4 linked regions of the Homo sapiens genome follow. The protein of the gene in region 2 purifies or fractionates together with the protein of the main gene of each other region. This does not show direct contact. Each region holds a gene or a part of one and is shown on either strand. Other genes may lie near its edges.

Region 1 (5,996 bases), on a different chromosome or scaffold from region 2:
TGTGTTTTGAGGTTCACAACAGATGTCATCATCCATTTTGTTAAATGCTCCTCTCGCTTCTGCCTTTTTCTCATTTCTGTCACCCTTTAGGTCTTATATCCAGATGGCCAGGCTCAGATGATTCACCCCAAGCCTGCAGACTTCCGGAATCCTGGCCCAGGGCGGCACCGGCTCATCACTCAGGTTTATCTCTCCCACACCGCTTGGACAGGTAAGGAGTCAGGACCAGGGTGGGAAGGGAAATATGCTGCTGGAGATCACACCTACCCTTAAGCGTTTGGTTTTTAAAGTTTGAAAAAAATACATGGATGAATCAGGCCTTGTAAGAATTGAACTTAATGAGTTTATAAGCACTCATTAAGTGGGTAAAAAACTGGGTATATTTGGGCTAATTTGCTACAGTGCTTTGATTGCATGAGAGATAAGATTCTGTTGGAAGATATACAGGCGATTATGATAGAATGGAGTCTCATGGAAAGGGCCCTGGTCTGGACACCAGGAGATTATTCTTATCCTAACTGCCACCGACTTGCTTGGTCACCTTAGACAAGTCTCTCCCTTTCTGAGTCTTTTTCCTTATCTTCCAAATGACAATAATAATTCTCAACCTACAAATTAGTTGTGAGGATTTTTAAAAATATTTTTTTTCATTTGCCAACTTATGTCTGAATTGTGAGGATAAAATGGGAGAATACAAGTACAAAGGAGATTACATTTCAAGCCTGTAAGCCTGCTTTAAAAAACTTAAGAAGACCTCAGTCTGCAGAACCTAGAATAGGGGGCAGAATTGGCCTCAGTGGTGTTTCCCAAATAATTGGAGATGGTTCAGGAGCACTGTTACTGGAGGTGTTTAATGCCACCAAATTTGGTTTATTTTAGAGATAGGGAATGCCTTTTGGAATTTTCTTTCACTCTGTGTTTTTAAACACATAATTATAAGGCTATTATTATTATTATTATTATTATTTTGAGACGGAGTCTTGCTCTTGCCCAGGCTGGAGTGCAGTGGTGCAATCTCGGCTCACTGCAACCTCTGTCTGCCTCCTGGGTTCAGGTGCTTCTCCTGTCTCAGCCTCCCGAGTAGCTGGGATTACAGGTGCACGTCACTACACCTGGCTAATTTTTTTGTATTTTAGTAGAGACAGGGTTTCGTCATGTTGGCCAAGCTAGTCTCGAACTCCTGACCTCAGGTGATCCACCCGCCTTGGCCTCCCAAAGTAGTGGGATTACAGGCATGAGCCACTGCGCTGGGCCTTTATTAATGGTTTCCCTCTGTCAGGGTGTTAGATGGGTAATGATGACTTTATGAAGCTGTTGGATGTTAGGGCAGCCCCTTTGGGGTTCTAGTGGTGGTAGGCCTGGTGTAGTTGAGGGAGCATCCAGCAGTTCTGCTACCCAGGACGTGCTTCCCTGAGTATTCCTCATTCCATAATCTGGCTGCCTGGAATGTTTTTGCACTATTTGCCAAACCACTGGCCCCACAGGAAAATAGATTCCTTATTCTAATATCTTCTGCTGAAGGGATCCCGGACATGGGGAAGGAAATGCTGTGGGACAGTATTGTTTTGGGAGGGACAAGGCTCAGGAAAGCAAATTACAGTATGCTGTAGCTCCAAAGATCGTGGAAGGTCTTGAGAGGGTCTGACTTGTCCCTGGTCACACAGCAAGTCATTGCCAAGGCCAGAGTTAGAACTCAGCTGATCTGCCCCCAAGCTCAAGGTTCTTTTTCCTAGGCCCCATTTCCTCTTAAGGTATCCTAGTTCATTGCAGACTTCCTTGTTTTGTATTGCCAGGCGATCCTGAGCCTGAATAATTTTAACTTATACAAGATCACAGCCAGGCCTGGTGGCTTGTACCTGTAATCTTCGGGAGGCTGAGGTGGGAGGATCGATTGAGCCCAAGAGTCTGAGACCAGCATGGGCAATATAGGGCAACCCTATCTCTACAATAGATATATAAAAAAGTTAACTGGGCATGGTGGCATGTGCCTGTAGTCCCAGCTACTCAGGAGGCTGAGGCAGGAAGATTGCTTGAGTCTGGGGGGTCAAGGCTGCAGGGAGCCCTGATCATGCCACTACACTCCAGCCTGGGTAACAGAGCAAGACCCTGACTCAAAAGAAAAAAAAAAAAACCATCAGAAACAAGAAAACAAGATCACCTCCTCTGAATGGTCGCTACCCAGTCACTATTACAAATCCCTGTTTTAATTGTTTATATATAGTGCGTACTGGTTTCAGATGTGTTTTCACATTTAATTACTTACTGACTTTCCCATTAGGATGTAGGCTTCTATAGAGCAGGGAACTTGCTTGTCTTTGCCTCTGTATCTCCATTGTTTTAGTAGCCTGTGTCTCTAGTGCCTGACATGTAGTAGGCACTCAACAAATAATGAAAATTGAATACAAGGTTTTAAATGTGCAATAAAAATTCATTTAATCTTTAGACCAACTCTGCAGTGGAAATTAGTATTCTCTTTTCATTTTACAGATACATAAATGGAGGCCCACATACCTGATCAGTGACAGTGCTAAAGCTGCAGTCACCCTTCCCAGCCCTCACTGTGCTATGTCCCTTCCGGTTTGGGGCACTGAAGTGAAATATGTCTCATTGTAAATGAGCTTGCAGTTTCTTTCTCCTAATCTAGGTGATGGGGCCTGGAGTTTCTAGGGAGCTCCTTCAATCCCTCAGTAGCTCCCCACCAGGGAGGGGCCTCTCCTCTGGGAGGCAGGATGCTGCCACGTAGGAAGCTCAGTCATAGACCATGTTTCAAATTCTGCTTCCTTTGCTGTGTGATCCTGAGAAAGTTATTTTACTTCCCTGTCTCATTAAGATGAGAATAAGAATATAAACCTGCTAGGAGAAATATTCTTCCAGGCATGACGCAGAAGTTGCTTGAGTTATCCTAGATGATCTTGTCTCCTTCTCCCAAGTTCCCCTCCTTCTTGTTTTCTCTCTTCTCCGCTTTACTCCTATGGCATTGCCTTGAATTGCCATTCTTATCAAATGTTGGTAAGGGAATGCAAAATGACCCTGTAGGGCTGAGTCCTACATCAACTCCCTCTGACCTTAGCAGGATTTATTTGTTTTTTTGTTTTTTTGTTTGTTTGTTTGTTTGTTTTGAGACAGGGTTTCCTTCTGTTGCCCAGGCTGGAGTGCAGTGGTGTGATCCTCTCGGGCTCAAGTGGTTCCTCCCACCTCAGTCCCCCTAGTAACTGAGACTATATGCCTGGCTAATTATTTTTATTTTTTGTAGAGACAGGTCTCACTATGTTGCCCAGGCTAGTCTCAAACACCTGGGATCAAGTGATTCTCCTGCCTTGCCCTCCCAAAGTGCTGGGATTATAGGCTTGAGCCTTATCCAGCTCTTACCAGGATTTGGCTTCTTGAAAGTGCTATGCCAACTGGGGCTGTGGTTGTGGTCTGCCACTTGGGATGGAATGGGAGAGTGTGGCAGGAAAGCAGATATAGGTACCTATTTTGATTCCACCCTAAGTGGGAGATTCATCTGGAGCCTGGTATCAGAGAACAGTGTTAGTTTCATGACAGTTACACTCATGGCTGCTGCATGACCCTCATGTTGTCATGTGAGTGTGTGCTTATCACATGGCTGGTACTTGATGATGAGGCTGCACTTAGATCTCATGCTGAAATCTGAGGTGCACTGGATTGCTCTGGCCTTGGGCTGACTGCAAACCTTTCCCTTCCTGGAGGACAGCAATCCAGTCTCTACTCTGACCCATAGAGAGAAGCTTGGATGTAACCAGGAAGAGGTCTGGGGAGGCACTGAGAAGTCCTGGAGTCTCTGCCCTTGTTAATTTAGATCCATCTAGCCTTCATTCCTACCCTCTGAACTTCTTAGCCTTGGGATCATCTTCAACTTACACTTTTTGCTCTGGTTGCACCAAATTAAGGAGACATCCCAAGCTCACTCCATTCCTGGCCTTTGCACTTGCCCTTACATTTTTCTGAAATTCTCTCCCTCTTCTTTATAGAAGCTTGTGGTTAATAGAATGAGTAACTGCTTCAGTTTATGAACTGGGCTCAAATTCTTACCCAGGTGTGCATCTGGGGAGTCTCTGAGAACCTATCTGATTCTTGGGATTTTTGCCAAGATTGTGACAGTCTTTCTTTCATAATGTAGCAGGATAAGAACTCTTGGGGTTAACTGTTTGGCATAGAATGGATATTCTATTCCAAAGCCTTCCTGCGCTCCTCCTCAGTACTTCTTGCAGGCTTGGTTAGAGCGTGTGTTGTACTCCATTGCAACTATCTGTTTCCTCAACCAAACAGCAGGCAACTTGAGGGGAGTTCTTAATTATTCTTGCTAGGACCTGCCACATAGAGACACTAGATGATTATATCGTAAGATAATGTAATGAAAGAATGAGATGTTTTCAGACATTTTAGGTCCCTGAGACATGTTCCTGTTCATTGGCCAGAAACTTTTTGGCGAACCACTTCCTATTCAAAGGCTTCCTCTCCACTAATAAAGTAGTCTGTGGTACATGCAGCCCTGAGGCTTGAGATGGAACTGCGCAGGAAGAGCCCAACTGGGTATCAGAATAAGCCACATGCACCTTCTGAAACTGCCCAAATCCACACCTGCATAAGAATTTGAGCCCAGTTCATAAAGCAGATCATGAAGCAATTATCTTCCTGGAAGGGTTTTTAGCTTGCTCTCCAGTTGCCTCAGCAGCTTTGGCTCTGTGCCACAGTGAGCCCAAGGGGAAGGTGATGGAACAGCATCACATCTGCAGGCTCAGTGTTTTGTTTGGTGAGGGTAAGGGGAGGGAATGTAGACGGATGAAGAAATTTCTCCCTACTGCTTCCATTTTGATATTTCTTTAACTTCACATTTCATCCTCATTCCTAGCAGTTGCCTAGTTATAGAGGATTTCTTTTATCTTTTTTTCAGAGGCATGCCAGGTGGAAGTGAGGCTGCTGCTGGCCTACAACTCCAGTGCTCGCATTCCAAAATGCCCCTGGATGGAGGGTGGTGAGATGTCACCACAGGTGGAAACCAGCATCGAGGGCACCATTCCCTTCAGCAAGCCTGTAAAAGTTTATATAATGCCCAAACCTGCACGGCGCTAAGGCAAAAACAGTCTTCCCAACCGTGGCCTAGAGGGCCCTTCTTAGGTGTCAGAATGAGCCAAGCCTGAAGCACTTCACCTGGAATTGATGTGTAGGCTTAAGGAGTATGTGACCCTTACAGTCTCATCTGGTATCAAACACAGGATAAATTGTTTCTTCATTAAAAAATAAAAAACCTTCAAGTCTACTTACCCTTCTCCTGTCCACAATAAAGTTGAGAAAACACCAAGCTGTTCTAGTTCCTGGTCTGTAAAGAAATGCGTGTGGCTATAGCTTCAGCTTTTATACTACGTGCTTACATGCTATTCCTCAGGTGTGAAACACAAAGATCCAGTTACCTCCTGATAACTGGTTATTTGAGCTATAGTCTTATTTCTTAAAGTGACGGTGTGTTTGTCAGGGCAACTCCAAGGCCGCTTTAACAGCTGTACTTTTTTTTTTTACCATTGACAGTTGCTGAAGGACCTTAAACATGTGTTAACCTTGCTAAGAAGCCTCTTCCCTAATGCAGGCAGTAGCTGGGCCAAGGACTGAATAGCTGGAGAATGAATCATTTTCATCTTTGAGGAAATTTTTTTTTTTTTTTTGAGATGGAGTCTTGCTGTGTCGCTCAGGCTGGAGTGCAGTGGCGTGATCTTGGCTTACTGCAACCTCTGCCTCCTGGGTTCAAGCCATTCTCCTGCCTCAGCCTCCTGAGTAGGTGGGACTACAGGCGCCTGTCACCACGCCTTGCTAATTTTTTGTATTTTTAGTAGAGACGGGGTTTCACCATGTTAGCCAGGATGGTCTTGATCTCCTGACCTCGTGATCTGCCCACCTTGGCCTCCCAAAATGCTGGGATTACAAGTGTGAGCAACCGCGCCTTGCTTTGAAGGAAATTCTTGATCTTGCCTGCCATTATT
Region 2 (5,996 bases):
AAAGCGCTGGGATTACAGGTGTGAGCCACTGTGCCTGGCCACCTGGATAATTTTTATATTTTTGGTGGAGACGGGGTTTCACCATGTTAGCCAGGCTGGTCTCTAACTCCCGACCTCAAATGGTCCTCCCACCTCGGCCTCCTAAAGTGCTGAGATTACAGGCGTGAGTCACTGTGCCTGTCCACAGCATAAGATTGTATAGTACAACATAGATCCACTTAAAAGAATGAGAACTAACTCCGATTTCTCTTTCCCAGTGCCTCACAATTTTATGTATAGCAAAACTGTCAAGAGGCTGTCCAAGTTACGAGAGTATCAACAGTATCATCCAAGCCTGACCTGCGTCATGGAAGGAAAGGACATAGAAGGTACAACTCTGCAATGGGCAACAAGACTTCCCTTGCTATTAATCAAATTCCTAGTCTGATGGTTTATATCTTCAGCACTAAAATTATCAACTGCAGCCTGGTTTTTCCTACTGCATTCTTTAACTATCTACTTGGTATCTTAAATAGACACCTCAGGCTGGGCCCAATGGCTCACACCTGTAATCCCAACACTTTGGGAGGCCGAGGTGGGTGGATTACCTGAGGGTCTGGAGTTTGAGACCAGCCTGACCAACATGCGGAGAAACCGCATCTCTACTAAAAATGCAAAAAAAGTCCGGGCGCGGTGGCTCAAGCCTGTAATCCCAGCGCTTTGGGAGGCCGAGGCGGGCGGATCACGAGGTCAGGAGATCGAGACCACGGTGAAACCCTGTCCCTACTAAAAATACAAAAAATTAGCTGGGTGCAGTGGCAGGCGCCTGTAGTCCCAGCTACTCGGGAGGCTGAGGCAGGAGAATGGTGTAAACCCAGAAGGTGGAGCTTGCAGTGAGCCGAGATCGCGCCACTGCACTCCAGCCTGGGTGACAGAGCGAGACTCCGTCTCAAAAAAAAAAATAGACACCTCAAAATTAAAGTATCAAACAGGGGTCCTCAGAACTGTCTCACTTCCTCCTGCTCCCATCAATATTAAAGCCTAAAACTCAAGAATCATTCTTAGCAGTTTTTTTCTCTTTTTTCTTTCTTTTCTTTTTTTTCTTTTTTGAGACGGAGTCTCACTCTGTCGCCCAGGCTGGAGTGCAGTGGCGCGATCTCGGCTCACTGCAACCTCTGCCTCCCAGGTTCAAGCAGTTCTCCTGCCTCGGCCTCCCAAGTAACTGGGACTACAGGCACACGCTGCCAGGCCCGGCTAATTTTTTTGTATTTTAGTAGAGACGGGGTTTCACCTTGTTGTCCAGGCTGGTCGTGAACTCCTGAGCTCAGGCAATCCTCCCGCATCGGCCTCCCAAAGTGCTGGGATTACAGGCGTGAGCCACCGTGCCTGGCCAGCAGTTTTTCTTTGCTTATCATCTTCACCCCTGCATCCAATTAATCACTAAGTTCAACAGTAAATATATCCCTCTCCCTATACAGTTCTGGATTAACTGAAAAATAAATATACACAGGATTCAGATAAGAATAAAATTATGCCTGGCATAGTGGCTCACATCTGTAATCCCAGTGCTTTGGGAGGCTGAGGAGGGGTAATCACCTAAGCACGGGAGCTTGAAACCAGCCTGGGAAACAAGATGGGACCTCAACTCTACAAAATACTTAAAAATAAATCACCCAAGCGCAGCACGGTGGCTCATGCCTGTAATCCCAGCACTTTGGGAGGCCGACGCGGGTGGATCACCTGGGGTCAGGAGTTCGACACCAGCCTAACCAACATGGAGAAACCCTGTCTCTATTAAAAATACAAAATTACCCGGGCGTGGTGTCGCATGCCTGTAATCCCAGCAACTCGGGAGGCTGAGGCAGGAGAATCACTTGAACCTGGGAGGTGGAGGTTGTGGTGAGCTGAGATTGTCCCAGCCTGGACAATAAGAGTGAAACTCCATCTCAAAAAAAAAAAAAAATTACCGAGCTATGGTGGCATGTGCCTATAGTCCTAGCTACTTTGGAGGCTGAGGTGGGAGGATCAGTTGAGCTCCGGAGGTTGAGGCTACAGTAAGCAGCAATTACACTGCTGCACTCCAGCCCGGGTGACAAAGTGAGACCCTGTCTAAAAAAAAGATAATAAATAAAATAAAATTATCAGCTTTATTGATGGTAAAATCAAACCATGAAATATGGCCTAGAGTGAGGCCAAACTGTTGCTCCCTAGTCCAGGCCTACTCACCTCCTCAGGGATAATTGGTCGGCTGTGTCCAGGATCAGGGACTGCCTACAGCGTCGTATGCAGAGCCGGAGGGAGACAAGTTCCACCCCAGAAATGCCTCTATGGCCTTAATCCTTTGCAGGAAGGAAATATGGACCCAAAGGGCATCAAACAATTATTTCAAGAATGAAACAGGCCAGGCGCGGTGGCTCACCCCTGTAATCCCAGCACTTTGGGAGGCCGAGGCGGGCGGATCACGAGGTCAAGAGATTGAGACTATCCTGGCCAACATGGTGAAACCCCGTCTCTATTAAAAATATAAAAAGTAGCTGGGCGTGGTGGCGGGCACCTGTAGTCCCAGCTACTCCGGAGGCTGAGGCAGGAGAATTGCTTGAACCCGGGAGGCGAAGGTTGCAGTGAGCCGAGATCACACCACTGCACTCCAGCCTGGGCGACAGAGCGAGATGCCATCTCAAAAAAAAAGAATGAAATAATTCATTCTTTACTTATAGGGAAAAACTGTGAGAGGTAAAAAGATGACAAGAGTTTCTTTTTCAAAACTACTGGTGGGAATCGAACAATGAGAACACTTGGACACAGGGTGGGGAACATCACACACTGGGGCCTGTTGTGGGGTGGGGAGGGGGGAGGGATAGCATTAGGAGATATACCTAACATAAATGACGAGTTAATGGGTGCAGCACACCAAAGTGGCACATGTATACATATGTAACCTGCACGTTGTGCACATGTACCCTAGAACTTAAAGTATAATTAAAAACAAAACAAAACTATCATAGGAGGCCAGGCTCAGTGGCTCATGCCTGTAATTCCAGCACTTCAGGGCAGCTGAGGCCAGTGGATCACTTGATCCCAGGAGTTCCAGATCAGCCTGGGCAACGAAGCAAGACTCTGTCTCTACAAATAATACAAAAAAAATTAGCTGGGTGTGGTGGCGTGCCCCTGTGGTTCCAGCTACTTGGGAGGCTGAGGTGGGAGGATCACTTGAATCCAGGTCAAGGCTGCAGTGAGCCATGGTTATGCCACTGCACTCCAGCTTAGATGACAAAGCATGATCCTGTCTCTAAAAAAATTTTTAAATATTTATTTTGGTATAATGTATGTCAAAATATAAAGAAAAACATTTTGATATGGTCTACATTGTCACTGTTTGTTAGAGGGAATGTATATAATCTCGTTTGTGCTGACAGTGGAAGAAACTGGTGCTTCGAAGGAGGAGAGATGGATATTTTTCAGCACGTACTGCTCTTAAGTGTTTTGCATGTATTATGTCACCTCAACCTCTCAACATTCTGAGTGAGAAATATTCCCATTTACAAACGAAAAGAAAAATATTTAAGGCTTAGAGTGGTTATATAATTTTCCCAAAATTACAGCACAGAAAATGAGGTTGCAACCCAGATATGTCTTACTCTGGACTCATTCTTTATAATGGGATGCTAAACTCTAAATGATATTTATATCTATAATTATTAGTGACAAATATAACATTGCGAAGCTTATTTTTGCTAAAGATGTGGACATGGTTCATATATGACCACCAATGAATGATGAGAACCTGAAGTTAAAGTATTTGTCTTTCAGATCATTTTTGTGGGTTTAAAGCAGGGCCTGGAAAACTAAGGCATGGGCCAAACTCAACAAGCTGCCTAGTTTTGTAAATGGCATTTTATTGCCATACTCATGTTCTTTTTTTTTTCTTTGGTAACATATTGCCAGTGGTTGCTTTCGTACTGCAGTAGCAGAGTTAAGCAGTTGCAACAGAAACCGTATGGCCCAAAAAGCCTGAGATATTTACTATCTGGCCTTTTGCAGGAAGTTTGCTGGTCCCTGTATAGAGTGAAATGATCTAGGGATTAGTAAATACACCAGTAAATGAGTTCAGCTTTGGAAAATCCGTGGAGATCCATAGGTGAAAACTAATTAAACCTTAGCAAGCTAAGCTTATAACTTTATGTGAGGAGAATTCTCTGTTAATATTTTTTCTTCTTCTATACTCATTTGGGAAGATTGGAGCTGCTGCCCAACCCCTTGGACTTCATTTCAGTCTAGTTGCTACTTTATTTCTACTGGGATGCAATCTTGGACTAAGAGTCAAAAGAACTGTTCTGTGATGGGGGCTGATCTGGTGGTGATCAACACCAGGGAAGAACAGGTATGTTCTAACAGGCAAGGTGGTCAGCTAATCTGTTTCCTTTCTTAACTGATAAAGAGTCTTTTTATTGCCCTGAAAGTTCAAAGACAGGAAAAAAAAAAAAACTTCTGGGTAAAAAAAAACCCAAAAAACAAAAAACACAGGAAAATCTCCTTAATCTGGAACACTCAAAAATGACTTTTATTTTTATTTTTTTTGGGGGGACTGTCTCCTTTTGTCACCCAAGCTGGAGTGTAATGGCACGATCTCAGCTCCCTGCAGCCTCCGCCTCCCGGGGTCAAGTGATTCTCCTGCCTCAGCCTCCCAAGTAGCTGGGAGGATAGGCATGTACCGCCACGCCTGGCTAATTTTTGTATTTTTAGAAGAGACGAGGTTTCACCATGTTAGTCAGGCTGATCTTGAACTACTGACCTCAAATGATCCACCTGCCTCGGCCTCTCAAAGTGTTGGGATTATAGGCGTGAGCCACCATGTGTGGCCAACAATAACTTTATTTTTTATTTTTATTTATTTATTTATTTATTTTGAGACGGAGTCTTGCTCTGTTGCCCAGGCTGGAGTGCAGTGGCACAATCTCAGCTCACTGCAAGCTCAGCCTCCCGGGTTCACACCATTCTCCTGCCTCCCAAGTAGCTGGGACTACAGGCACCTGCCACCACGCCCGGCTAATTTTTTTGTATTTTTAGTAGAGATGGGGTTTCACTGTGTTAGCCAGGATGGTCTGGATCTCCTGACCTCGTGATCTGCCCGTCTCGGCCTCCCAAAGTGCTGGGATTACAGGTGTGAGCCACCACGTCTGGCTAACAATAACTTTAATAAAACAAATTCCGGAGCAAACTTCAGGCAAACATTGATGTTGAAATTTGATCCTGAAGAATTTTAATTTTAAAAATATAAGAAAAAAAATTCAGGCAAATAAAATAGTGAATTTGAAAAATGGAAAAATGATATTAATATTTGCCATCTAAGAAATGTCAACCAATTAAACATTAGTCCTTCATACTGTATCCTCTGCATTTCTTACCTTCTTTTCAACATTTTCCATCTATTTTTCTCTTTGTACTTGATTTTAAACAGTTTCTTCTGTCCTTCTATTCCAGTTCACTAATCTTCTTTTTGTTTTTGAGACAGAGTCTCACTCTGTTGCCCAGGCTGGAGTGCAATGGCGCCCAGGCTGGAGTGCAATGGCACGGTCTTGGCTCACTGCAACCTCCGCCTCCCAGGTTCAAGCGATTCTCCTGCCTCAGCTTCCCGAGTAACTGGGACTCCAGGTGCGTGCCACCACACCCAGCTAATTTTTGTATTTTTAGTAGAGACGGGGGTTTCACCATGTTGGCCAGGCTGGTCTTGAACTCCTGACCTCGTGATCCACCCACCTCGGCCTCCCAAAGTTCTGGGATTACAGGCGTGAGCCACCACACCTGGCCCTCCCACTTGACTAATCTTCTTCAACTATGTCTATCCTGCTATTAAAGCCATATATTAACATCTAAATTCAATTATTGTATTTTTCAAATCTAGAATTGATCTTGCTTCTCTTTCAAATATGCTGTCAAACTTTATAATGTTCAACACTTAAGCTTGTTTTTTTGCTGTTACTGGTTTTTGCTTTTTTTTTCTTTTTTTTGAGATGGAG
Region 3 (5,996 bases), on a different chromosome or scaffold from region 2:
ACTGAAATATATTAACCTAAAGGTAACTAATATATTCAGAACTTTCTAAAACCTTCAGAGAAATTTTAACCCTATGGTAGTGAAAAGATGTTCTAGTGCTGCTATTTCATGAGACATCTAAGAGGTTCATTCTTTATGGTCAGACTTAAAACAGTAATAAGGTTATGTGGAGACCTTATTATTTCCTAAAAGTGGTTCAGCTTTCATTAGAAGCTGAAAACTGTTATATCTTAGGTAAAAATGGACCTGCATAATTTATTTCTGATTAGGGAGATTAACACATACTGCATAGTTTGCTGTTCTTAGTATTTTCCTTAGCTAAGCTGGTGACACTATTTCAGTTTTGCTTTATTTATAGCTTTGTGGCTTTAGCTCTTGATTTAATGTGTATATTTTTATAAATACTTCAATAAAGTGGTAGAAATAAAGTCTGAAGATAGACTTTACATTCTAGAAGTAATGCCACATGTACTTTTTCAAGGAAGGTTAGGTTCATCCATTTAATAATTCCCTATATCTTAAACTCCTTAATGTTTTTTCTAAGAGAGTGTGTATGCATGTATATGTGTGTGTGTTTGTACACACATCACTTGACCATCATAAAGTTTACTGTTTTTCTTCTAGATCTTTTGGCACTGGAACAAGATGCTGTCTTTGGCCTGGAATCCCTACTGGTACTTTGTAGTCAAGATGATAGTCCAGGTGCTCAGGCCACTTTAAAGGTGAAAACTTTTATTTATTAAGTTGTAATAGATATATATGATGGTCTTAGGCAATAGAAAGCAAAGTTAAGCAGACATAGCTCCTGTACTCTTAGAAGTTTTAATCTAAGTGATTAAATCTAACTGATAAAACTACACTGATTTAATCTAACTGATAAAACCACAAAAAAACTGATGACATGACTGCAGCCGACTCATAAATGTTCATTAATTTAACATAAGCGTTCATTAATTTCCCAGTGGTATAAGCCCTAGTTTATAAGCCAAGGGAAGAATATTTTAAGGAATTTTCACCTTCACTTAGTTACAGAAATCATCTTAGAGATATGCAAGATTTTTAAAATGTGAAATGAGGCCAGGACAGTGGCTCTCATGCCTATAATCCCAGCATTTTGGGGCGGTCAAGGTGGAAGGATTGCATGAGCCTAGGAGTTCAAGACCAGCCTGGGCAGCATACTGAGACCCCATCTCTAGAAAAATTTTTTAAAATTTAGCTGGACATATTGGGGCACACCTATAGTCCTAGCTACTCATGAGGCTGAGGTGAGAGGATTGCTTGAGGCCGAGAGGTTGAGGCTGCAGGGAGCCATTATTGCACCACTGTTCTCTACCCTATGTGAAAGAATGAGACCCTGTCTCAAAAAAAATAAATAAATAAAATGTGAAATGAAACTACTCTTTTTGGAGTGAAACGTGAAATATAATTTGTGATGGTGCAAAATTAATGAGGAGAAGCATAGTTAATAGAAGTAAGAAACTGTTAGATAAACATTGGCGTTAGCTTGTCTAAGGTGTGGTTTCAAGGAAGTCATGGCTCATTTTAGCAGGTTAAGGAAAGTTGTGATATGGTCATAGTGATGAACAATAAAGATAGTAACATCATTAAGTGACAGCTAATAAGAAGTAGAGAAGGGAAGTAGACAACATGTGTTTGGCAACACATTCTGAGGGGGATCCTCAGAATCCCCTTGGAACCACAGTACATTTAAGACTTTTTTTAAAAGCAAATCTTTTTTCCAACAATTGTGGGTGTCAGTAAAATGCTGGATTCAGCACAGTGGGACATACATAGATGGCCAAGAAAGGTTCCTGTAATAGAGGAGCTTCCCATCTAGAATAGGCTACTGATGTTTATATAGGGGACTATAATACCAAGCGGAACACAATACATTCTCTGATATTTCACAAAAAAAGTGCAGTTCTAATGAGAGGTCAGAGTCGGGAGTGATTAACTTTAACCAAGGGTATTAGGGAAGACTTTAAATAAATGTCATATGAGTTGAGTTGTGAAAGATGGAATCGAATTACAGTAATGAGGAAAGATTGTTTGAGCCCAATGACTGCTGTTATAAAAGACTTGAAAGTAAGAATGTACCTGTTGTGGTGGAAGAATGGTGACTAGCCCACTGTGGCTGGGTGAAATAATTTGAGATTTGGAAAAGTAGTTCAGTCATAGAGGATATCAAATAACATGGTATTATGGCTTTGATTCTATAGGTAATGAGGAGATAATATAATTTTAAAGTAATGGTAACCTTTGTCGTAATTATTATTGTTATTTGAATGTCTATTATGTGCCAATCTTTGTTGAAGACTTATATATACATTTGTTTCAGTCCTTCAATAACCCTATAATGAAATGTGTTCTCCTCTTATACACATCAGAAACTTAAGGCCGAGAGAGAGAAGTACCTTGTTCAAAGCCACCTAGCTAATAAGGGGCAAGCTGAGCTTCAGCCCTTGCATTTATCAGACTCTAAAGTTATGTGTGTGCCTGACACCCCACTGATGGCTACATGGCTGCATTGTGAAGGATGGATTGAAGGGCCCATCTTTTCAAGAAATTGGAATTAGGAAGAGATTTATGATGTGGTAGAGAGAATGGAAAAGTGCCAACAGTGGATATTGGAGGCTTGACAAAAGAATCTGTTAGCTATGTAAAAGTGGGAATATTTCTAGGTTTCTAGTTTTTTGGCTGGATATTAGTGATGCCTTTAAGAAGGCCTTGGTAAGAGAAATTCTGTAGCCAAATTGGTTTTTAGATTTCAGTTGAGAAATAAGAGAAAATTGGGAACCTCTTTCCCACTTCAGTGTACTTAGAGTCATCTAAGCCGTCTTTTTAAAACTGTGAAACCTCAGTAGCCTCAACACACACACACACGTATGTTAATTCAGGAATCTATATTTTTATTTTCATTCTGGGAGATGCTGGCATAGTTTACAAGCCACACTTCAGAAGCAGTTCCTGAAAAGTAATGATAATACAGTGATGGTGACATTTGGCCTATATTTGCCTCTTCAGCATTATTCCTTATGATTTCCATCTTTCTTAAAAGTATTTTAATAGTCTTAGATTGAAATGAGTGGTTGACGTGCAGTCCTAATTTGTTATTTTAAACGTAGTGCACTTCACAAACCCTAATGTGAGATTCAGTACCTCATATTTCTTATGAAGTAAAATGTTATGCCTACAAGAAACCTCACCCTTGAGTTTCCCCAGTAACCTGTACAAAGCTCTTTTCCTTAAAGCTTCATCTGTATCTTCAAAATGTAACTAGTTCATTTTCTTTTTGGCGTGCAGATTGCTCTAAACTGTATGGTGAAGTTGGCCAAGGGCAGGCCCCATCTTAGCCAGTCAGTAGTTGAGACCTTGTTGACTCAATTGCACAGTGCTCAAGACGCTGCCCGGATTTTGATGTGCCATTGCCTGGCAGCCATTGCCATGCAACTGCCGGTGCTGGGTGATGGGATGCTTGGTGACCTCATGGAGCTGTACAAGGTGATTGGACGATCAGCCACAGACAAGCAACAAGAACTTCTGGTAAAAAGCCCATTTTGAATCTCCTTTGAATGACTAGGATCTGGTCTAGTGGGAATTACTTTTAAGTCAACATTACTATTTGACTTTACTTAAAAAACAGAACAAACAATAGGTTAAATTCATTACCTAAGACCAAAGAGTGTGCTGATGTCAAAATAGAATTGGCTTTATGAGCTTTTTACTTTTTTCACTTTTGATTTAGAAAGCCGTGTTTTGTTCACCTCTAAAACTGCTTTCTTCCGAAACCCTGTCAAATCAGCCTAGTATAGCCAAAGCCTTCAATCTCATGTTTTTTTTTATTGCAAAGGACAGAATGAAAATGAAATTTTTATCTTTCTTATACAGAGTAAATAATGAACTAAACCCTGTTTTGTACTTTAGAAAATAGAAGTTAAAAATCTAATGATAATAATGACCATAAATTAGCCCAAATTTATGTTTTCCATTCCAGGACCTCTTTAGCTGTTTAGGATCCAGTTTAGGCTTCTGTAGACCCTTGAGGTTGGGAAAGGTACATGCTTAGAAAGAAACAGAAGCTGTGGAAGCTATAAAATGTTTAGTTGAAAAGTTCTGCAGGACTGAGAGTAGGCTACATTCTAAATAATTGTAAATTAAATGAAAGTTGTAAGGTTGCCATTCCATATTGTTCTGTTCATCTTAATTTAGAATGTGGGAAAAAATATAATGAAATAATTTATTCAAGCCTGTTTTATGTTTAATCCTCCAGAGGGAATTGTGTAAAAGATTGACCCCATCCCATCATTTGCTGCCAGAAAAGGTTACCTTGATGACCAAATGTATGGATCTTTATATGAATCAGCTTTGAAATATTAAGAGGCAGTTAGCTAAGTTTATTTTTTATTGAAGTGGCATTTTGAACTAACGGTCCTGATATCTTTTTTGTGAGTACTACCTTAAGATTGTCTTAAATTATGAAACATAATATTCAAAAAATCTGAGGAATAATACAGTGAAAACTCTTGCATTCATTATCTAGCTTAAGAAAAAGGTATTAACAGTTTAGTTGAAGCCCCCTGTTTACCTTGCTGATAGCATCTCCTCCCTTCTCTCAGGTAACCACTATCCTGAATTTGGTATTTATCATTCTCATGCCTGTTATTCTTTTACTACCAAAGTGTATATCCCTAAGTAATATGCAGTATTTTGCATATTTTTAATTTTATGTAAACTTTATCATACTACTTGTAATCTTTTGCATTTTGCATATTTTTGCGTATTTTGCTTGTCATCTATGTTGGTAAGTCTGTCGCTAGTTTATCCATTTTATTTACGTATCTCATTGTTTGATTATGTTATATAATTTATTCATATTATGGGTATTGCTTCTACTTCTTTGCTGTTATAAAGAGTGCCCTGAGTGAATGGAATAAATTAATGACTTCAAAATAAAAAATTAAATAAATGTCATTGGAAAACAAATTTTGTTCTTTTGCAGTGGGCTCTAATTAGTTTTCCTCCCTTTGGGGTAGGTTATCAATGACACTGAATAAAATTAAATGATTTTCTTGGTTTTCTTCTTGCCCAATGTTAGGTGAGTTTGGCTACTGTGATTTTTGTTGCAAGTCAGAAGGCATTGTCTGTGGAAAGTAAGGCAGTAATTAAGCAGCAGCTTGAAAGTGTCTCCAATGGATGGACTGTATACCGTATTGCCAGACAGGCTTCCAGAATGGTATGTGTTACCCTTCTGAGTGAACTGGGTTGCTGGAAATGTCAGATCATGTATCTTCAATTGTATGATTATTAGTTGTAGTCAAAACTAAAAATAAAGATGGAAGTACCTTTTAGTCATGGGTTCTGAAGATGAGGAAGGAAAGGACCTGATTTTTAACTTTTATCATAAAAGAATGGTATCTATGTTGTTGGCATTAGTAATGAGGAAGTTAAAATCTGGACCCTTTCTGGCTGTAGGTTGTTAGTGCCACTTTCATTTTGCTCTGTATTGTTATAACCAAGGCCACCTACCACCCGCTGTTTCTATCTTCCTTTCTCAGTATACCACATCTTTGTTCCTCTCCCCAGTCTTGTCATTCTTAAGTAGAAATGGGAAAGCTTTAGTATGCTGTACTCTTCTCAGCCATATGGAAAGCCTAACAAGTTTTATTAATTTTGTTTGAGAGGAAATAGAAACCTTGGTTAGTACAGAAATCCTGGCCGGGTGGGGTGGCTCACGCATGTAATCCCAGTACTTTGTGAGAGGCCAAGGCGGACAAATCTCTTGAGGCCAGGAGTTTGAGACCAGCCTGGCTGACATAGTAAAAGCCTGTCTCTACTAAAAATAAATTAAAAAAAAAAACCTTGGGGATAAGTCCAGAGACCAAAGTTTGAGGAAGCATTACTCTAGGTGATTGAAGTGCATGTTCTTAATTTTATGTTGCTTCTCAAATGGGGGAGAAGCACACACTCTTGGCAGGACAATTCTTCATTATACTGTT
Region 4 (5,996 bases), on a different chromosome or scaffold from region 2:
CACACCACATTGGCAGTGGGAAGGATGGAACGGGAGAGGGTGGCGGAGCCCCCAGTTCTCACTAACTATGCCCCTCCCCCAGGGACAACCTCTACCGCGTAGAGCTGGAGCCCCCCACGTCCACGGAGCTGCGGTACCAGAGGGTGAGGAAGGGGTGCAGGTGGGAGTGGAGGGGTAGGGCCAGGGGGACGCGGCACTGCGCCGGGGAGCTGGGTGGATTCGGCCCAGCACGGCGGGGTCACTCAGGGCTGCTGGGACCCGTTACCCCCTCACCAGCTCTCTCTGTCTGCAGAAGCTGACCTGGAGATCTAACCCCAGCGACATAAACGTGTGTCGGATGAAGGGCAAACAGGAGGTGAGTTGGCCCTGGCTCGGTCCCGGCCCCTGCGAATCAGCCCTGGCATTACCCATGCCCCGCCCCAATCAGACCAGGCCACGCCCACCCCGCCAGCCCTGGCCACGCCCCAACCCACCCCCAATCAGCCCTGGCCCCGCCCAACTGCCAGCCCTGGCCACACCCCCAAACAGCCATGGCCACGTCCACGTCCCCACCCAATTGGTCCTAGCCCGGCCTCCAGCCTAGCCACAATTATCCATAACCACGCCCCAAATAGTTCTGGCTATGCCCACACTTCTGCCCCTGTCAGTCCTACCACCACCCCCAGCCTCGTTCCAACAAGCCCAGGCCATGTTCACACGCCACCCAATAGCTCACTCCCCACCCAATCGATCAGGTCCCCATCCCGACCCCTCCCCTATCAGTCCTGCCGCCCCCCACGCCCCCGGCCCGCCCCAATAAGCCCAGGCCACGCCCACCCCACCAGCTCTGGCCACGCTCCCAACTTGGCCCCAATCAGCTATAACCGTGCCCACCACGCCCCAGTTAGTTCTGGTCACGACCATGCCCCACCCCAATCGGCCGTGACCACACCCAGGGCGGATCCTTCTCCTCCATCCCAGGTTAGGACTCTGCTATTGCCATGGTTATGCCCACAGTCTGACAATGCCCACCATCCTGGCCTTGCCTGCGTTGCTGATACAAAGTGTTTCCCTGTCTGGGTCGCACCGTGTCCCCAGCCAGTCCTAGGTTCAGCCCCTGCCTTGGCCATGCCCACAACAGACCGGCCCTCCACCCACACAACTCAGGTTCTGGCCACGCCCATCACCATGACCACGCCCACATCGCGCTCCCCGCTTCCTCCTGTCCCCACCTCAGGGCGAGTGTCGAAACTTCGTAAAGGTGCTGCTCCTTCGGGACGAGTCCACGCTCTTTGTGTGCGGTTCCAACGCCTTCAACCCGGTGTGCGCCAACTACAGCGTGAGTCTTCAGACTCCCTGCGCCCCAGGTCCAACCTCCAGGCCTCTGCTCGCCCGACCTCCGCTGGCCATGGCTTTTCCCCAGGCCGTGTCACCTCCTCCAGGAAGCCTTCCTGGATATACTCTCCCTGCCTCCTCCCCCTGAGCTCAAGAGGAGTCAGCGCTGTCCAAACGAGGCCTGTACAGGGGGCCGGGGAAGCCGTAGCTACTTAGGTAATGAGCCAGTTACAGGTCTAACTAGGCATTGACTCTTAAACCCATTTACAGATCAGTAAACTGAGGCCCTGAGAGGTTAAGTGAGTGGCCAAGGTCACACAGTAATCCGTGGTGGATCAGGATTCCCCCTGGAGTGGGGGGCTGAGGGAGCCAGGGGCTGCTAGGTGGGGTCAGGAGATCTGTCACTCAGGCCCCATGGTCCCTGCAGATAGACACCCTGCAGCCCGTCGGAGACAACATCAGCGGTATGGCCCGCTGCCCGTACGACCCCAAGCACGCCAATGTTGCCCTCTTCTCTGGTAAGTACCCCCCCAACCTCCATCTGATCAGCCCCAGCCACAGGCAAGACCTGGCATTTTCTACTCCAGCGTCTGGGTTGTTTAGAAGGCAGCTGGACGACCACTTGTCCCAGCTGTGACATGGGCAGACTCTCAGCCCAGGTTTGGGGCTCAGCTGGGATTGAGGCTCAGCGGGATTTGGGGCTTAGCCGGGGTCAGGGGCTCAGTTAAGGTCAGGGCTTGGATGGAGGTGGGGCTTGGATGGGATCAGGGCTCAGCCTGGAGACAGGGGCTCCCCTAGGCTCAGGACTCAGTCTCAGAAAATCGAGTTTCGACCCACCCAGCCCCTGGCCTCTGCGGTCTCATCTCTTGCCTGCCTTCCCCACCCACCCCATCCAGACGGGATGCTCTTCACAGCTACTGTTACCGACTTCCTAGCCATTGATGCTGTCATCTACCGCAGCCTCGGGGACAGGCCCACCCTGCGCACCGTGAAACATGACTCCAAGTGGTTCAAAGGTGAGACCAGGAAGGGCAGTGGGCCCAGACCTGGCAGGGCCCAGAACCTGACATTCATCAAATCTCCCCACCAGAATAAGAGTCCCAGAGGAGCTTGGTGGAGAGATTTCCACCACATCTTTGGAATCTGTTGGCCTTTTTGAAGACTAGAAAGCTAGAGGAACAAGTTTAGTTGGATCTAAAGTAGAACCCGCTGGAAGTGGGTGGCTTAGAAGCCCAAAATGGAACCACAGAAAAGATATAGCAGGACTCAGCTCTTCAACACATGAGGGAGGAAGATAACAAAAAATAGTTGATGTTGCCATTTGCAGCAAGAGACACAGCGATTTTAGGCTTCTGACCTCCCTTCCCCTGCAAAATACCAAACTTTGAGTCTGTTTCATATTGTCTGGGTAACCAGCCTATGTCCCCCCTTCACCATAAAAGCCAGTGAGTTCTTAGCCCCAGAAACCCCCTTTGTCATGTCAGGGGCTGAGTTCTGACCCCTCCTGTCCTGCAGAGCCTTACTTTGTCCATGCGGTGGAGTGGGGCAGCCATGTCTACTTCTTCTTCCGGGAGATTGCGATGGAGTTTAACTACCTGGAGAAGGTGAGGCCGGTGCAGTGGGGCATGAAGTTGAGAGGCTCTGATCATGCGAAGTGAGGGGGCAGAGGTGGATCCATGAATCCCTGCATGGGGTGAGAGGGTCCTGCCCTCCATTTCTGGTCCCCAGGGCCTCCTTTCCAGCCATGATCAGGCCCTGAGGCTGAAGACATCTACGGAGCAGCCGTGGAGCACTCAGCCCTGACGAGGGACTTGAGTTGGAAGTCAGATACACCTGGTGCTGTTGCTGTTCACCTGTCCACCCACCCACCCAGCCACAATCACTTATCCATCCTTCATCCCCTGTCCATCCGTCTACCTGCTCACCCTCCCACTTACCCATCTGTCTGTTCTTCAGCCCACCCACACTTTCATGAGCCCATTAATCCATCTACTCATCTGCCCACCCACTCACTCATCCACCCACTACCATCCATCCGTGCACTCATCCATCTGTCCATGCATCCATCCACCCATCGATTCATCTAGCCACCCTTCCATCCTATCCATCTATCAGTCCATCCACCTATCCATCCATCTATCCATCATCTGTCCATCCATCTGCCAATCCATTCACCCATCCATTCATCCATCCATCCATCCCATCCACCCATCCATCCATTTATCTACCCATCCACCAACACACCCACCCACCCACCCACCCATCCATCCATCCATCCATCCACACATCCATCCATCCATCCAGCTGCCAATCCATCCACCCATCCATTCATCCATCTACCTATCCACCCACCCATCCATCCATCCTTCATCTATCCATCCATCTGCCAATCCATCCACCCTTCCATCTCATCTATCCATCCATCTCATTCACCCACTCATCATCTATGCACCCACCCATCTATCCATCCATTTATCTGCCCATCCACCCACACACCCATCCATCCATCCATCCATCCATCCATCCATCCATCCATCCATCCACTCACCCATCCAACCATCCACCCATCCAACTCACCTATCCATCCATCCATCCATCCATCCATCCATCCACTCACCCATCCAACCATCTACCCACCCAACTCACCCATCCATCCATCCATCCATCCATCCACCCACTTATCCATCCATTCATTCATCCACTTATTCACCTATCCATGCATCCATCCATCCACTCACCTAGCTTTCTCTCTATCCATCTGTTCATCCATCCACCCACACATCCATCTACTTATCTACCAATTGCTTGATTACCTTGTTCTCCTTCACCATCTCTTCCATTATCTATCATCCTTCTTCAGATGTATTTATTTATCCATCCACCTACTCATCCCTCCATTGTAATCGTCCGTCCATCTACTCATCCACTCATCCGTCCATCCAGGCAACCAGGCAGTGCTGAAGTGCACAGACTGCCACTAACTACTATTGTGACCTTGGACCAGTCACTTCCTTTTATCTGTGCCTCTTATCAGTGTCCCCACATGTACAATGGGGGGATATCAGTAGGCCCCCCTCGGGAAGAGTGTAAGAGATGTGAGAATAAAATGTGGGTCTTCGTGGAAACAGTGATGATTATGGTTGTCACTGTTGCTATTATCATCATTGACATTCCCACCGGGAATTTCTGCCAGGGAAGCCGGTGCCCAGAGAGGAACGGTGACTGGCCGGGGTCCCACCAGAGCCAGGGTCAGACTCCTCCATCACAGTTTGGGTGGTGAGTGGCACAGCCTGTGAACAGGCCTTCCTGGGACACAGAGCTCAGGCCCCCGTCCGTCCACTGTCACGCCCAGGTGGTGGTGTCCCGCGTGGCCCGAGTGTGCAAGAACGACGTGGGAGGCTCCCCCCGCGTGCTGGAGAAGCAGTGGACGTCCTTCCTGAAGGCGCGGCTCAACTGCTCTGTACCCGGAGACTCCCATTTCTACTTCAACGTGCTGCAGGCTGTCACGGGCGTGGTCAGCCTCGGGGGCCGGCCCGTGGTCCTGGCCGTTTTTTCCACGCCCAGCAACAGGTCAGCGCCCACCAATGGGAGCAAACTGGGAGCATTTGGTGGGCATGGGTAGAGAGGGCCTGTATTCACTCCTCAGGTATGCCCTGGGTGCTAGGTTGGGCACCACTGGATTAGACCTCTGAGAGGCCTCGGCCCCAGGCTGGGGTGGGACAAGCTGACACTGACCCTCTAAGTCCCTTTGGTCAGAACTGGGCCAAAGATATCCTCATCCTCTGCCTTTGGGGAGAGGAGCAGGGAGGGCTTCCTGGAGGAGGGGACATTGGAGCTGGACTTTGGGTGTGAGATGGAGGAAGAGGGAAGGGTGTTCAAAGTTGGAGAAACAGCATGTGCAAAGGTCCTGAGGCTTCAGTGAGTTCAGTATACTTAAGTAATCGTGAGAGAGTCTGTGTGGGAAGGGAACTAGGGGAGAATGCACAACAGGAAAGCAGGGAACTGGTAGGATGGATCAGGCAAGGCTTTGTGGGCTGCAGGCAGAAACTTGGACTTTTTCCCTGAGAGCACTGGGGAGCCATGGAAGAGTGAAGAGCAAGAGGGATGAGATCAGGTTTGCATTTTTTGTTTGTTTGTTTGTTTGTTTGGTTTGGTTTTTTTTTTGAGACAGTTTCACTCTTGTTGCCCAGGCTGGAGTGCAGTGGCGCGATCTCGGCTCACCACAACCTCTGCCTCCTGGGTTCAAGCAATTCTCCTGCCTCAGCCTCCCTAGTAGCTGGGATTACAGGCGTGCGCCACCACACCCAGCTTATTTTGTATTTTTAGTAGAGACGGGGTTTCTCCATTTTGGTCAGGCTGGACTCAAACTCCTGACCTCGTGATCCACCCGCCTCAGCCTCCCAAAGTGTTGGGATTACAGGCGTCAGCCACCGCACCCGGCCAAGGTTTGCATTTTTAAAAAGCCTGCTTGTGGACTGGGCACGGTGGCTTCGCCTGTAATCCCAGCACTTTGGGAGGCTGAGGAGGGCAGATCACTTGAGGTCAGGAGTTCGAAACCAGCCTGGCCAACATGGTGAAACCCCATCTCTACTAAAAATACAAAAATTAGCTGGGTGTGGTGGTGGGCACCTGTAATTCCAGCTACTCGGGAGACTGAGGCAGGAGAATTGCTTGAACCTGGG

What was found.
Region 1: the proteins of CLEC4C (region 2) and INTS4 purify together in Homo sapiens (affinity purification with mass spectrometry; one large-scale study listed by BioGRID and IntAct). This does not show direct contact.
Region 3: the proteins of CLEC4C (region 2) and INTS7 purify together in Homo sapiens (affinity purification with mass spectrometry; one large-scale study listed by BioGRID and IntAct). This does not show direct contact.
Region 4: the proteins of CLEC4C (region 2) and SEMA6B purify together in Homo sapiens (affinity purification with mass spectrometry; one large-scale study listed by BioGRID and IntAct). This does not show direct contact.

What each region holds. Positions count from the first base shown.
Region 1 is NC_000011.10:77,878,047-77,884,042, reverse strand, and holds the end of INTS4 (integrator complex subunit 4), read left to right. Parts: intron 1-90; coding exon 91-211; intron 212-4,915; coding exon 4,916-5,094; 3' UTR 5,095-5,286; downstream 5,287-5,996. UniProt on the Homo sapiens protein: Component of the integrator complex, a multiprotein complex that terminates RNA polymerase II (Pol II) transcription in the promoter-proximal region of genes.
Region 2 is NC_000012.12:7,735,793-7,741,788, reverse strand, and holds part of CLEC4C (C-type lectin domain family 4 member C), read left to right. Parts: intron 1-257; coding exon 258-368; intron 369-4,214; coding exon 4,215-4,360; intron 4,361-5,996. UniProt on the Homo sapiens protein: Lectin-type cell surface receptor which may play a role in antigen capturing by dendritic cells. Specifically recognizes non-sialylated galactose-terminated biantennary glycans containing the trisaccharide epitope Gal(beta1-3/4)GlcNAc(beta1-2)Man.
Region 3 is NC_000001.11:211,975,819-211,981,814, reverse strand, and holds part of INTS7 (integrator complex subunit 7), read left to right. Parts: intron 1-624; coding exon 625-722; intron 723-3,303; coding exon 3,304-3,543; intron 3,544-4,270; coding exon of another isoform or gene 4,271-4,369; exon of another isoform or gene 4,370-4,983; intron 4,984-5,095; coding exon 5,096-5,233; intron 5,234-5,996. UniProt on the Homo sapiens protein: Component of the integrator complex, a multiprotein complex that terminates RNA polymerase II (Pol II) transcription in the promoter-proximal region of genes.
Region 4 is NC_000019.10:4,551,310-4,557,305, reverse strand, and holds part of SEMA6B (semaphorin-6B precursor), read left to right. Parts: intron 1-82; coding exon 83-143; intron 144-292; coding exon 293-355; intron 356-1,216; coding exon 1,217-1,318; intron 1,319-1,741; coding exon 1,742-1,832; intron 1,833-2,210; coding exon 2,211-2,330; intron 2,331-2,829; coding exon 2,830-2,918; intron 2,919-4,666; coding exon 4,667-4,884; intron 4,885-5,996. UniProt on the Homo sapiens protein: Functions as a cell surface repellent for mossy fibers of developing neurons in the hippocampus where it plays a role in axon guidance.